4 linked regions of the Homo sapiens genome follow. The protein of the gene in region 1 interacts with the protein of each later gene in a pairwise test. Each region holds a gene or a part of one and is shown on either strand. Other genes may lie near its edges.

Region 1 (3,500 bases):
ATGTGCACCACTGTATCCAGCCTAGACAATATTTTACTCTATTATTTTATTTTTTTTTTTTTTGAGTCAGGATCTTGCTCTGTTGCACAGGCTGGAGTACAGTGGCACAGTAACGCGTCACTGCCATCTTGACCTCCCAGGCTCAGTCCATCCTCCCACCTCAGCCTCTCTAGTAGGTGGGACTATAGGCACATGCCGTCACTCCTGGCTGATTTTTTTGTATTTTTTTAATGTGACAGGGGTTTGCCATGTTGCCCAGGCTGGTCTGGAACTCCTGGACTAAGGTGATCTGCCCACCTCGGCCTCCAAAAGTGCTGAGATCACAGGTGTGAGCCACCACGCCCGGCCTGGACAGTATTTTAACTATCACACTCTCATGCTTTCTCATTCTAACATTTTGAAGTATCAACTATGATTTCATCAACCTTTACATTCCGTGGTTTGTATTGTAAAGGTCCCATGTGTAGACTGGATGTTTTCTAAACTAAACTCCCACAGAAATTGTGACATTAAGCCACCATTCCCCACCAGCACTCACATGCCACACTGTATTAAGGAATAGCAGGGGATTTCATTCATTGTGGAGCTGGCCATGTGGGCTGGTTTATGGTTAGGGCATATAGAGAGACAGGGAAGCATATTCCTCTGTTCTGTGAAATGACTTACTGTGTTGGAAGTACATGAGACCACTCCGGGGTTTGAAGCGATGTCTACCAAGGGAAATCATTAGAGACTCAGTGCCCAAAGTTTTTGCTGGGGCAAGAAATGTAGGTACCCTGTGCCTACATTTTTTGCTATAGCACATAGCAAAATTACAGATTCCTAGAAGGAAAGCAGATGTTGAGCATAAACCACATTGTTTATACAGACATTCTTAGCACAGTGAGCCACTCTTAATAGGTTAGTGTGTTGGCACCCTTTGCCAAGTACATACCAGCAGTCCAAATTCTCAGACATTAGCCAAGGTCCAGTCATCAAGCAGGCCTTTTTGAGAGGAATTGTAGGTCCCTATATTAACTTTTTCTGCACACATAACTAGTGAGTGATAGGACTTTTTAGATAGAACCATGCTATTCCCATATTCTTTATAAAACCTGTGTGTTTGGTGCATGCCTATAATACCAAGTTCAAAAATGAATGCGCCTAAACCAGCTCTGCCATTTGTTTTTTTTTAAATTAAATTCTGTTGACACTCAGCTAGCTGGGCACAGTGGCTCATGTAATCCCAGCACTTGGGGAGGCAGAAGGAGGAGGATTGCTTGAGCAGGAGTTCGAGACCAGCCTGGGCAACGTGATGAGACACAAAGGCTAAAATATTAGGTTGTTGTACTATCTGGCCCCATAGAGAAAAAGAGGGCCAACCTCTGTCCCATATGGTAGAACTGGCTTTTCAAATCAGTAGTGAAAAAACGCTTTATTAAAACCGTTTGAAAAATGAAGTTGGATCTCTATGCCAAAATGCCAGTGGGTCAGATAGTTAAACATAAATAGTGAATCTAGAACTATAATAGAGAAAACACAGGAGAATTTTTTTGTTGTTCTGTGTGAGGGAGACCTTTCTGGGTATGGCAGAAAACACCAAATTAGGCAGACAAACAATGAAAAAAATACTCAAAATTTGTATCATAGACAAAAAGAGTTAATTTCCTTAATATAAAAAGAGTAAAAATAAAGCAGATCAACAAACAGGTTAAAAAACTGGCTAAAGAGATAAGAACAGTCTATAAGTAAAGAACACTTAAGTATATGAAATGATACTTAGCACATTTGTATCATTTTAGTTTGTATTTTTTAATACCATTTTCCACCAATTAAACCAGGAGATTCAAAAGTGTTTGATATTAGAGTGTGTTAAAAAGGATGTGTTCTATCTGTGGACAGTAATTTTATAATATTTATCAAAATTCAAAATATATTTACCCTGTGAAGGGGCAACTTTATCCTACCAGTTGATCCTACAGGTATACTTGTACTTGCACAAAATATCTTACATACAAATGTATTCATTAGTGCATTGCTTTTAATAGCATAAGATTTGACCTAAAAGTCCATTAATATAGTACTGGTTTTATAAAATGATACCTATGTGTACTAGATTTCTGTGTAGTCACCAAAATGAGTATGAAGTAGCTCTTTGAACATTAATGTGAGACACTCAATGGAAATTAAATGATTTGTGAGACAGTAAGGTATATAGTGTGTGTATATATATGTCTGTCTGTCTGTCTGTCTATATATATTGTGATATAGTATCTCTGAAAGAGACATTCAGGAAAACCGGGTACAGTGTTTGCCTTTGTGGAGCAAGTATGGGAGAGTGGTGTGGAAGAGAAACATAATATTCGTCATACATATTCTTGTATCTATTGGATTTTGTTTTTTGTTTGTTTGTTTGTCACCCAGTCTGTCACCCAGGCTGGAGTGCAGTGGCGCCATCTCAGCTCACTGCAAGCTCCGCCTCCCGGGTTCACGTCATAGGGCCTGCCTCAGCCTCCCGAGTAGCTGGGACTACAGGTGCCCACCACCACACCCGGCTAATTTTTTTGTATTTTTAGTAGAGATGGGGTTTCACCATGTTAGCCAGGATGGTCTTGATCTCCTGACTTCGTGATCTGCCTGCCTCGGCCTCCCAAAGTGTTGGGATTACAGGCGTGAGCCACTGCGCCCAGCCATCTTTTGGATTTTGTAACATCATATATATATATATATCAATTAGTCCAAAAACTTAATAAGTTTTTTTTTTTTTAATTTTTGGATGAAGACATGGTCTTGTTTTGTCATCCAGGCTGGAATGCAGTGGTGCAATCATAGCTCACTGCAGCCTTGTACTCCTGGGCTAAAGCAATCCTCCCACCTCAGCCTCCCAAAGTGCTGGCATTATAGGCATGAGTGACTGTGCCTGGCTCAAATTTTTAACAGTTATGTAGAAAATCCATAAAATAATAAAAGTATGATTCTCTGTTAGCTAATGGTCAGGTGTGTATAGCACCATAATATTGTTCTCACGAGTTCATCACTCCCTATGCTTAAACATAAACCAAATCTCTCTGGATAGGAAACAAGGTGTGTACCCATTTAGGAACTTTTCCCGTTTATCATAAATGAAGTGTTACACATAGTGTGTGTAAAACCTAAGAAATTCAACTGGAAATGATTTGGAGAAATTGGTGGTAATAGAACACTTCATGTTCTATTGAAGAACATTGTGAAGCCATTATGCCTCATTAATTGCTGCTTACTTTTTTTAGACTTCAAATCTCAACCTGAGCCATCCCCAGTTCTTAGCCAGTTGAGCCAGCGACAACAGCACCAGAGCCAGGCAGTCACTGTTCCTCCTCCTGGTTTGGAGTCCTTTCCTTCCCAGGCAAAACTTCGAGAATCAACACCTGGAGACAGTCCCTCCACTGTGAACAAGCTTTTGCAGCTTCCCAGCACGACCATTGAAAATATCTCTGTGTCTGTCCACCAGCCACAGCCCAAACACATCAAACTTGCTAAGC
Region 2 (3,500 bases), on another chromosome or scaffold:
TTTCGCTTTCTTTGCTTTTCTTTTTTTGGAGATGAAGTCTTGCTCTTGTCCCCCAGGCTGGAGTGCGATGGCGCGATCTCGGCTCACTACAACCTCCGCCTCCCGGGTTCAAGCGATTCTCCTGCCTCAGCCTCCTGAGTAGCTGGGATTACAGGAGCCCGCCACCACGCCCGGCTAATTTTTGTATTTTAGTAGAGACAGGGTTTCACCACATGGTGGCCAGGCTGGTCTCGAACTCCTGACCTCAGGTGATCCACCCGCCTCAGCCTCCCAAAGTGCTGGGATTGCAGGCGTGAGCCACCACACCCGGCCAGTTCTGTTCTTTCTTGACTGTGGTGCTGGTTCCATGGGCTTGTGCAATTTGTCATGGTCCACTGAACTGTGTACTCAGGATTTGTCAACTTTTATGATAAAAATATACTTAAATAAAAAGCTTTAAAGATACAGAAAAGATATATAGCTACCACAGCTTCATTTTAACTAGTGTTTGATCTAATATTAACTAATACTTAGCCTTTCTGTGTTATTTTATTTTAGGCCAAATAGTTGCATCACATGTATCTAATCCGAGAGTCTCATGCTTCTGGTAGGTGAGTCAATCTTATTTTACTTATTTATTTTGAGACAGGGTTTTGCTTTGTTGCCCAGGCTGGAGTGCAGTGGTGCGATCACAGCTCACTGCAGCCTCTACTTCCTGGGCCCAGGTGATCCTCCCACCTCAGCCTCCCAAGTAGCTGGGACTACAGGTGTGTGCCATCACAGCCAGCTAATTTTTTTTTTTTTTTTTTTTTGGTAGCATTAAGGTCTCCCTATGTTGCCCAGGCTTGTCTCAAATTCCTGGGCTCAAGCTGTCCTCCCGCCTCAGCCTCCCAAAGCGCTAGGATTACAGGTGTGAGCCACCGAGCTTGGCCCCTTCTATCATTTTTAATTTTTTCTTCCTTAGCCCTTAACATTTTGTCTTCATTCTTCCATGTAAAGTGAATGAGTATTGTCGTTTTCCTCCTGAATGAGACAGCTTAGCATGCCAGAGCAGGGAGGGGGATAGACGGCCCGAGGGCAGCAGGCAGTAGAGGTGACTGGAGGCTGGGCACTTTGGTGCACTCCTTTAATCCCAGCACTTTGGGAGGCCGAGGCAAGAGGATTGCTTGAGCTCAAGAGTTCAAGACCAGCCTGGGCAAAACCCCATCTGTACAAAAAAATACAAAAATTAGCCAGGTGTGATTGTTGGGGTGATCAGACCCAACACCAGGCCATGGGGGCTATGAAGTCCAGCGGAGTCAAAGGAATGAGAAAAGACAGGTTAAGAGTACTTAAGGTGGGTCCAGGGGGCCAACGCTAGTATGGAGGCTGTGAAGGCACCAAGCTCTGGGAGCCCACACTATTTATTGATGATCGAACAAAGAAGCAGGTGGTGAGGATGTGCGGACATGAGGGTAGACAGGTGAGGACATGAGGACATGGGGATAGAAAGGTAGCGGTGCATCAAGCGTAGCTGTGACGGTTTAGCATTTTCTTTGACACATATGTACTATGCTCTGCTACCTGAGATAATGGAGAACATGTTTATGAGCCTGGGAGAGCAAGAAGCAAGGAACCAACAAGTCTGTGCACATTCCAGAGGCCATGAGGGTTTTGTGCCCTGAGCCCTGGATTCCATCCAAGCCACGAGGGGTTTTGTGCCCTGAGCCCTGGATTCCATCCAAGCCACAAGGGGTTTTGTGCCCTGAGCCCTGGATTCCATCCAAGCCATGAGGGTTTTTATGCCTTGGCTTAGATTATGGAGCGGCAGGGCAGCCTTCCCCCCTTTGGCACAGAGCTTGGTGTTCCAAAGGCCATGAGGGGGTTTGGACCCTGGACCCAGGACGTGTTCCCAGACTCTTTTACATTATGGCAGACAAGCTAGTCCTGCCTCAGCTCTTCCACCAACAGTGGTGGTGCGCGCCTGTAGTCCTAGCTACTCAGGAGGCTGAGGTGAGAGAACTGCTTGAGCTCAGGAGGTCGAGGCTGCAGTGAGCCGAGATCACGCCACTGTCCTCTAGCCTGGGCAACTAAGAGAAACCCTGTCATGTCATTAAAAAAAAAAGAAAGAAAAAAAAGAGGTGGAGCTGGAGAGGGCAGCCCCAGGCAAAGAGTGGAGTCTATGTCCGGGAGGCCAGCTAGCAGTACCCACATTGGGATGGGCAGGGGTGGACCAGTGAGGCAGGCAGGGCTGTTTATGGCAGCACCAAGTAGCCTGAGCTGTGGAAGAAGGGGCCAGACTGGGCCTCCACTTGTTGCGTTCTCTTCCCTCAGCTCCTCAGTGACCAGCTCCTGCTCACTGCCCTCAGAAAGCCCAACCCTCAGGCAATGGCGGCCTTGTTCCTGTCTGCCCCACCCCAGGTGAGTGTCTGTCCTCCTGGGAGGAGTGAAGTTTTTACCCAGGGCTTTCCTTGGCAAACACTGCCAGGTGTCTCTGGTTTGGGATGCTGACATGATGGTAGGGGTGGCCCTGAGACCCCCATGCAGCCACCCCTTGGGATGTATTAGCTGGCTCGGTGGCAGATGGGTCAGGCCACCCACTGTGCTGCTGCCTTTAGCATGCTTCTGCTGCCTCCCCGCCCCTACCAGCCCACTCTGGACCACACCTGGGCTGCAGTAGTCCCTGTCATTCCAGGCCGAGGTGACCTTCGAGGACGTGGCTGTGTACCTCTCCCGGGAGGAATGGGGCCGCCTGGGCCCTGCTCAGAGGGGCCTCTACAGGGACGTGATGCTGGAGACCTACGGGAACCTAGTCTCACTGGGTAAGGCCCTCACCAGAACTCAGCTCTGGGAACAGCCCTGGGGGCTAAGGGCTCAGCAGAGGCTGGGCTAGGGGCCTCACCCCCTGGGCACAGATAGGTGATGACCTTTATCCCAGGCAGGCACCTGATCTGAGAAGATGAGGGGAAGAGCAGTGCTGGGACCTTCCTGAGTCAGCCCTTCCCTTCCCTCTCGCCCCAGGTCCCAGGCAGACCCCTCCCTGGTAGGGCGGGGGACACCGGGGGGGCGGAGTTGCATACCTCCTAGTGGAGGGAACCCCTGAGCTCTCATTCCCTTATGCTCAGGACTGCCCCAGCCCAATCTCAGTGCCCTCCAGAGAGTGTCCAGGCTTCCATCACCCCCTCTGCCTGTGCCTCCCTTACCCTGCAGCCCCAGGGTGAGACAGCACTAGGTGCTGCCCTGTGTCCTTGGTACCAACCCCAGTCCCTGTCTCCTTCCCAGGAGTAGGACCTGCAGGCCCCAAGCCTGGAGTGATCTCGCAGTTGGAGCGAGGGGATGAGCCCTGGGTCCTGGATGTTCAGGGCACCTCTGGGAAAGAGCACCTGAGAGTCAACAGCCCAGGTGCGTGAGGGGATCTGCTCCCCAACTCAAGTCACCGAACGAGCCTTTATTGGGGTCCAGGGTGTCTGATTAATGAATCAGGAGTTTGTGGGCCAGATTCATCGGGGCTAGCACAGGAGGCCTGACAGTGGCCTTTGCTG
Region 3 (3,500 bases), on another chromosome or scaffold:
TGAAGATCAGGGGACAGAAATGTTTTTAAAACCACCAAGTATAAATCACATAAGATCGATAGACAGTCGTGATCAGCCATCTACATACAGATGAGGATGTTTGTCAGTTTGAAAATGGATCGATTGTTGAATTTTTCTTTGTTTCTCCCCAGTTAAGATATGCAAGTTTAGCATTCTGTAAGTGTTGGATCAGAATTTCTGATGCCCTTGGCACTCACTACTCAGTGTCAGTTTAGACATTGGCTCCTAATTTTTTTTCTTTTTCTTTTTTAAGATACAGTGTTTCACTGCTGCTGGAGTGCAGTGGCTCTATCATAGCTTACTATGGCTTCGAACTCCTGGGCTCAAGTGATCCTTGAGTAGGGCTATAGCTAGGACTATAGGTTCACGCCACCATGCCTGGCTAATGTTTTTTTTTTTATTTTTATAGAGACAGGGTTTCACTTTGTGGCTCAGGCTGGTCTCTAACTTCTGGCTTGAAGCAATCCCCCCGCTTCAGCCTCCCAAAATGTTGGGATTATAGGTTATGAGCCACCTTGCCCGGCCCTGTTTTGTTTTTATAATATCATTAAAATACCTCATCAGTTTCAAATAACCATTTTGCAGGGTGGTAGGGGATTTTTCTGAGATGGTGTTGAGTCACAGTGTTATTTGAGGTTCTAGTAAGTATCAAAGTGTGTCTTGTGTTAAATGATTCTATTTGAGCTTAAAATGTAATTTCATTTCAGTTACTTGTTTATTGACTCAGAATGCATTTGTTGAGATCTAGACCAGGTTCTTTGTTAATGGAATGTTCTACTCTGTTCTGATGTTTTTGGAATCTTGTATAGAGAACAGTGTCTACCACCAAACTCCTAAGGCTGGATGGTGGTAAGTTCAACTCTTTGCTACCTTCTGAAATTTGAGAAATAGTAAAATTGGAGCACCTTCAGGCTGTGTTAGACTTTAAGGCTTCTAAATTATATTAGAATGTAAGGATACATCTTTGTTTTGACCCTGGAAAGAGTAGTAAAGATTTTCATAAAGGCCAACTAGTCATAAAAACTTACTTAAATTGACATGATCCTAACTCACAATTATGAAAAGCTTTCTGTTGAAATAATTGTGTAGAAAGTGATCTTTATACATGAACAAAGGTGGGATGTTTTAGAAATAATTGAAGATTCTAAGATCCCAGGAAATATAATGGTTTAATTTATTTTTAAGGGATTTAAGATTCCCCATAGCCTATGAAAGAGGGGTCTCTATTAAAAATAACGCCATTGTTCTAGATGTAGCTAATTAGGGATTTGCAATTATCTAGGCAAGGCTAGGATAAAGTTTGGCTGCCTATTCTGTATGAAAAGGTTTTACTGTAAATATCAAGTTTAAATAGATCTTAAGAGGAATATTTACCTAATTAAAAGAACAAACCACTTTTAAGCACCTTGGGAAAATCAATTTACTTAAAAGCAGTGTAAAAATGCAGAATGCATTCACTGATGCTGGTCTGCTGGTGGTCTTTTCATAGAGATACAGGAGCCCCTGGAAAGTCAGTGCTCTCTGTGGATTGCCATGAAATAAATATTGATTGACTCAATGCTATTATGTGAACTACAAACAGTTTACCAGCAATGGGTAGAACTATATTATTTGCTTGCAAAATACATCACAACAATAAACACAATATCTGCCTCCCCCACCCCACTCCACTCTACCAATAGACTCCAACTATGCCTATTTATTGGTTTTGGAGTTTTTCTATTGACATTTGTTTTGCTACTTGTTAACTTCTTTTGTCATGTGTAAGCATTTGATGGCAGATTGGGGACAGCAGGTGTTAAAGGTTTAAGAGCATCATTATTGCTTTTAGCTTCATTTCTTCTGCCTTTGTGTTTGGGCAAGATTGTGGAGAGTCCTGAGTTTAGTATTTAGATAAGGTAATTACATGTCCTTCTCCTCTACTTTTACTAAAGCAAGATCCTCCTGGGCAGCTTAGTTCCAGGTACTGTATGAACTTGCCAGTAATAAGAGTAAGTTTCTTTTAAAAGATTTCTGGATATTTTACGTTTTATACTCAGTCACTCAGATGCGAGGTTTTCTAGTATGTGTCTACTTAGGGGTCAGATTTGACCAGTTTTTAACAGTACAAGTTGTACATATAGGATACTTAATGTATTTCTAGGATATTATGCTTCATTTTCTCTTAGTATTTTAAAGGTTTTAAAAAACCCATTCTATACCTTCTATATCTTTTATTGTTTAAGTCATTCAATGGGAAAGAAAATAATAAAAGTCTTTAGATGCTGTTTCTGATTTTTCGATCATGGTTTTTTTAATCTCAAGAAAAATAATTCTGATTAAGAAATAGAGGTAAACATTATTCTGAAGTAGTGAATTAGAGAATACTTAAATATATTGAGCTGGAATCCTTGTGTATTGCATGTTGGGAATGTTAAATGATAAAGCTACTGTGGAAAACAGTTCTGTAGTTCATAAATATTTACACATAGAATTACTATATGATTCAGCAATTCCATTCCTATTCCTATACGCAAAAGAAAGCAGGGACTCAGGTACTTAAAAGCCAGTGTTTATAGCAGCATTATTGACAATACCTAAAAGGTAGAAACAACCCATGCCCATCAACAGATGAATGGATAAACAAAATATGGTATTATATATTGGAATATTTTGGTACAGTGGAATATTATTCAGCCATAAAAAAGAAGGCAGTTCTAATACATGCCATAACATGAATGAATCTTGAAAACATTATGCTAAGTGAAATAAGCCGGACACAAGAAGATAAATATTGTATATATCCACTTGCATGAGATGACTAGGATAGGTAAATTCATAGAGACAAAAAGTAGAATAGAGATTACCAGGGCTTGGGGGAAGGGAAGATGGAGAGATAGTGTTTCATGGGTTTAGAATTTCTGTTTGGGATGATAAAAAATTTCTGGAAATGAACAGTGGCGATGGTTGTACAACATTATGAATGTATGTAATGCCACTAAGTTGAATGCAGAAAATGGTAAATTTTTTGTTATGTATATTTTATGACAATTAAAAAATGCAAAAGTAAATATTGAAGATGTATCCTACACAGTCTCCATATGCCTCTTTACTCCCCCTTGGTCTGCTTCAGGCAGGTATATAGTTATTTTTTCTTCATCTGGCTGTTGCAGTGTAAATGGAGATTTCCCTAGGCCATTTTTTGGAGATCAGAGAGTTTCCTTATTTTATTAACTGACTTAAATTTAAGAGGAAAATGTTTAAAAGTAGATCTCTGGAGGGGAAAAAAGGGCATTTTAATATTGAGATGAATCAGGGAGTTTGTTAATATTGGCAGACCATGTAAGCACATGAAGATAATCTATCCTGAATAGCACAGCGAGTCATTTAGAAATCCAGTAGTAGGTGTACACTCGGACCTGTCACATTTTCTAACCTTTAAACATTGTTTTTTGTTTCTTTTTTTTGAGATAGAATTTCGCTCTTATTGTCCAGGGTGG
Region 4 (3,500 bases), on another chromosome or scaffold:
AACAGTTAGATTTCACCCACTGGCTAAAGACGGGAAAGCGGCCTCATTAGGAGATGGGCTGGGCCAGGTCAGGTGCCACCAGGCATGGTGGGGTGGGGAGGTTGAAGCCTAAAACAGACCTTTCTCTGAGTCCGGGATGGCTCCTTCCTGAGTCCTGACTGCTGCCCCTGCCCTTTCAGGTCAGTGATTTTCTCCACGGTGGCTCTGCACTGGGCCTGAGAAGGTTAATGGAACAGGAAGGGGTTGGTTGGTTAAGAAGTCGGGGGGAGGCAGGAGTACCCCCTTACTCCTCTGTCACTCTTCCCTCCACTCCCCTGGTTTCTTTTACCCAAGCTACTGCATGCATCTGCCCACAGGACAGGTTGCTGTGTGACTATTAGATATTTATTTATTTATTTATTTTTGAGACAAAGTCTCACTCTGTTGCCCAGGCTGGAGTGCAATGGTGCAGTCTCAGCTCACTGCAACCTCCACCTCCCAGGTTCAAGTGATTCTCCTGCCTCAGCCTCCCAAGTAGCTGGGATTACAGGCACCTGCCACCACGCCTAGCTAATTTTTTTTGTATTAGTAGAGCCGGGTTTCACCACGTTGGCCAGGCTGGTCTTGAACTCCTGACCTCAGGCGATCCGCCCACCTCGGCCTCCCAAAGTGCTGGGATTACAGGCATGAGCCACCGTGCCGGGCTAACTATTAGATATTTAGACAGACAACCTGTGGCCTCTGTTTGGGGGTTTGTGCCTGTGGGGGCAGGGTACTTTACAAATGTCATCTCATTCCCGCTGACTGGGAGATGCCCCTGTGTTCCTCTGCATGAATGTCCCATGTCTTGGGCAGGATACAGGCAGAGCTGGGGATGCCTTTTCATTCCATGACTATTTCCTGAGCACCCACTGTATGCCAGGCACTGTGCCAGGCACTGGAGATTCAGTGTGAACAAGCCATAGTCCCCACCCTCAAGGTGTCCATAAGTTTATGAGAGACATGACGAATACACAGGAGACAATAACACAGGGGCTCATTCTGTGCTGGGGGAAGTCTGGGGTGCTGGGAGTCACCAAGGAAAGTGTTCCTGTAACAGGAGTGGGGGTGGGGCTCAGGGAAAGCTCCCTGGAGCAGGTGATGCCTAAGAGGGTGGGTGGGCTGTGGGAAGAGGAGGTGTCAAAGCCCAGTAGGGGACACAGCGCTGAGCTTTATCCTCATTGCAGTTGGGACAGGGACCTGGGAGGGGGTGGGGAGGGATGAGGCTGGGCCTTGTGGGTCCTGAGCCTGAGTCCCGGAGGGCTACTGGAGGGTGTGCGGGGAACGGGGACTCTGAGCTGGGTGGAAGGGCCAGGTGGATGGGGTGGTCGGCTCCCTGGGCATGGCACAGGATGTGAGAGCCCACCAGACCTCCACCCCCAATGCCGAGCATGGCAGGGCCCCCGACGGCTGGGCCTTCTCCCGCCCCATGTGTCTGCCCATCCCTCCCACAGGTAGACCCCTACCTACCCTACGAGTACACCTGCGAGGGGATGCTGGAGCGGATCCACGCCTACATCCAGCACCAGGTCAGTGAGCCCTCTGGTCCCTGCCCCAGATCCTGTCAGACCAGAGGAGGGGGCTGAGCCAGCTTCATTGTCTGCCCAGGGCCCTGCACCCGTGAAACCATCCAACTCCCTGCTCCCTCCTCCAGCCTGTCCAGTCTCTTCCCAGAGTTCCCTCAGGGCTGGAGACAGGCAGGCCTGACTGCGGGCCTGGAAAGCAGCACACTCCGGGCACTCCTGCTGTCTGGGCCCAGCCTTAGAGCCCAACTCCACGGCACTAACAGAAACACAAAGACTTCCGTTCTTAGAAAACAGTGGTTCGAAAGTCTGCTAACTGATTGGGATTTGGTAACTGAATGGGAAGTGAAGATCCCCAGACTCTCCGCCCACCTGCTAAGGATGGCAGTGAGACTGGAATGGGAGATTAGGATCTCTGCCCTGAGAAACCAGGGGACAGCCCCACGGTTTCAAAAACTCGGCCACCTCAGCCCCCGAGGGAGCGCCTGGGCAGGCACCTGTCCAAGGAGTACACTCCTTCTCCTCCCACGGGTGCTCAGAGTGCCTGGAAGTCGTGGGTGAGGAGGAGGGCGTGCCCTATTCCTGGGGAGTCCTGGCCCTCCACTGCATCCTGGTGGATCTGAGCCACCATGAGGGCTGCAGGTGGCCCAGATGGAGCGTGGCTCTGCAGGCCCCGGGTGTCCAGGGTGATGCCTGGGGTGGGCCTTGGGCTCAGGGCCCTGGGGCAGGTGGCCGTATGGCTGTAAGAAATTTCCACAGATAGTACGTGACCTCCCTTTCCATCTTGTTGGCCCCACCAATATTAGGGGCTGAGAGAGTCTGGTTCTCCCCTGTCCCTTTACAGATGGGAATACTGAAACCCCCAGAAGGGAGAGTGTATTCAGGTGAGGGGGTGAGGGTCAGGGCCGTGGCCAGAACCCAGGACTGGACCCAGACTGGAAGCTCACAGAAAAGCATTCGCGGGGCCCTCCGGCCCCTGGAGTTGAACCCTGCAGGGAGAGCCTCACAGCCAGCCTGGGGCCCTGTCCCCATGGAGGGCAGGGCTCGTGGGCCCCAGGGTAGGAACCCCAGCCTGACCTGAGCATCGAGGCAGCTCCAGGGCACACAGGATGCAGAGGGCCCTGAATCCAAGTCCTGTTCTGCCATCCAACCCCAAGGCCCTGGGCGGATGCCGTGACCTCTGAGCCTCCATAATTCCTGTAAGCGATCTGGAGACACGAGTGTCCATGAGAAGTAAATGAAATAATGCAGGTAAAGCTACCTGGTATTCAGTAAGCGCCCAGTAGTGGTGGCTCGTACTGGCACGGCAGGGCCACACCTTCAGGTGTCTCCCAGGCACACCTGGGTCGCACTTCCCCACCCTGACACTGCTCTCCTCCTTGCAGGACTTCTGCAGAGCTCCAGACCCTGCCCTACCAGAGGCCCACGCCCCGCAGAGCCCCTTTGTCCTGGCCCCCAATGCCACCCACCTCGAGTGGGCTCGGAACACCAGCTTGGCTCCTGGGGCCTGGCCCCCCGCGCACGCCCTGCGGGCCTGGCTGGCCGTGCCTGGGAGGGCCTGCACCGACACCTGCCTGGACCACGGGCTAATCTGTGAGCCCTCCTTCTTCCCCTTCCTGAACAGCCAGGACGCCTTCCTCAAGTGAGTGTTCCCCCACCCTCCCCACCCAGCCGCTATCATCGCTGGCCCAGCCGGGTTCACTGAGAGCTCTCATGCCCAGAACCGGCCCTCAGCCCTGCCAGTGTGGGGGGATGTAATGCTTTCCAATGAGTCAGGAAGGATCCAGAAGGGATCCTCCAGGCCATTATCCAGGTCATTGCTGCCCTACTCTTGGCCAAACCCTAAACTACCAGGGAAAGCTCCTTCCATTGCCTGCTCTCTTCCACCCACTCAGCCCCCTGCCCAGCCTGTGGGCATCGTCCTGTCCCAGACCATGAAAGCTGTCCCAGGTGCTCCTC

What was found. Proteins that work in one complex are often made in the same cells at the same time.
Region 2: the proteins of UBAP2 (region 1) and ZNF34 interact in a two-hybrid assay, tested with the Homo sapiens proteins (one large-scale study listed by BioGRID).
Region 3: the proteins of UBAP2 (region 1) and FNDC3B interact in binary tests that used the Homo sapiens proteins (3 or more experiments, as listed by UniProt).
Region 4: the proteins of UBAP2 (region 1) and MGAT5B interact in a two-hybrid assay, tested with the Homo sapiens proteins (one large-scale study listed by BioGRID).

Annotation. Positions count from the first base shown.
Region 1 is NC_000009.12:33,944,388-33,947,887, reverse strand, and holds part of UBAP2 (ubiquitin-associated protein 2), read left to right. Parts: intron 1-3,248; coding exon 3,249-3,500. UniProt on the Homo sapiens protein: Recruits the ubiquitination machinery to RNA polymerase II for polyubiquitination, removal and degradation, when the transcription-coupled nucleotide excision repair (TC-NER) machinery fails to resolve DNA damage. May promote the degradation of ANXA2.
Region 2 is NC_000008.11:144,777,318-144,780,817, reverse strand, and holds part of ZNF34 (zinc finger protein 34), read left to right. Parts: intron 1-537; 5' UTR 538-577; coding exon of another isoform or gene 578-586; 5' UTR 587-590; intron 591-2,292; coding exon of another isoform or gene 2,293-2,346; coding exon 2,347-2,379; intron 2,380-2,653; coding exon 2,654-2,780; intron 2,781-3,240; coding exon 3,241-3,360; intron 3,361-3,500. UniProt on the Homo sapiens protein: May be involved in transcriptional regulation.
Region 3 is NC_000003.12:172,046,078-172,049,577, forward strand, and holds part of FNDC3B (fibronectin type III domain-containing protein 3B), read left to right. Parts: intron 1-3,500. UniProt on the Homo sapiens protein: May be a positive regulator of adipogenesis.
Region 4 is NC_000017.11:76,944,904-76,948,403, forward strand, and holds part of MGAT5B (alpha-1,6-mannosylglycoprotein 6-beta-N-acetylglucosaminyltransferase B), read left to right. Parts: exon of another isoform or gene 1-354; intron 355-1,472; coding exon 1,473-1,547; intron 1,548-2,926; coding exon 2,927-3,183; intron 3,184-3,500. UniProt on the Homo sapiens protein: Glycosyltransferase that acts on alpha-linked mannose of N-glycans and O-mannosyl glycans.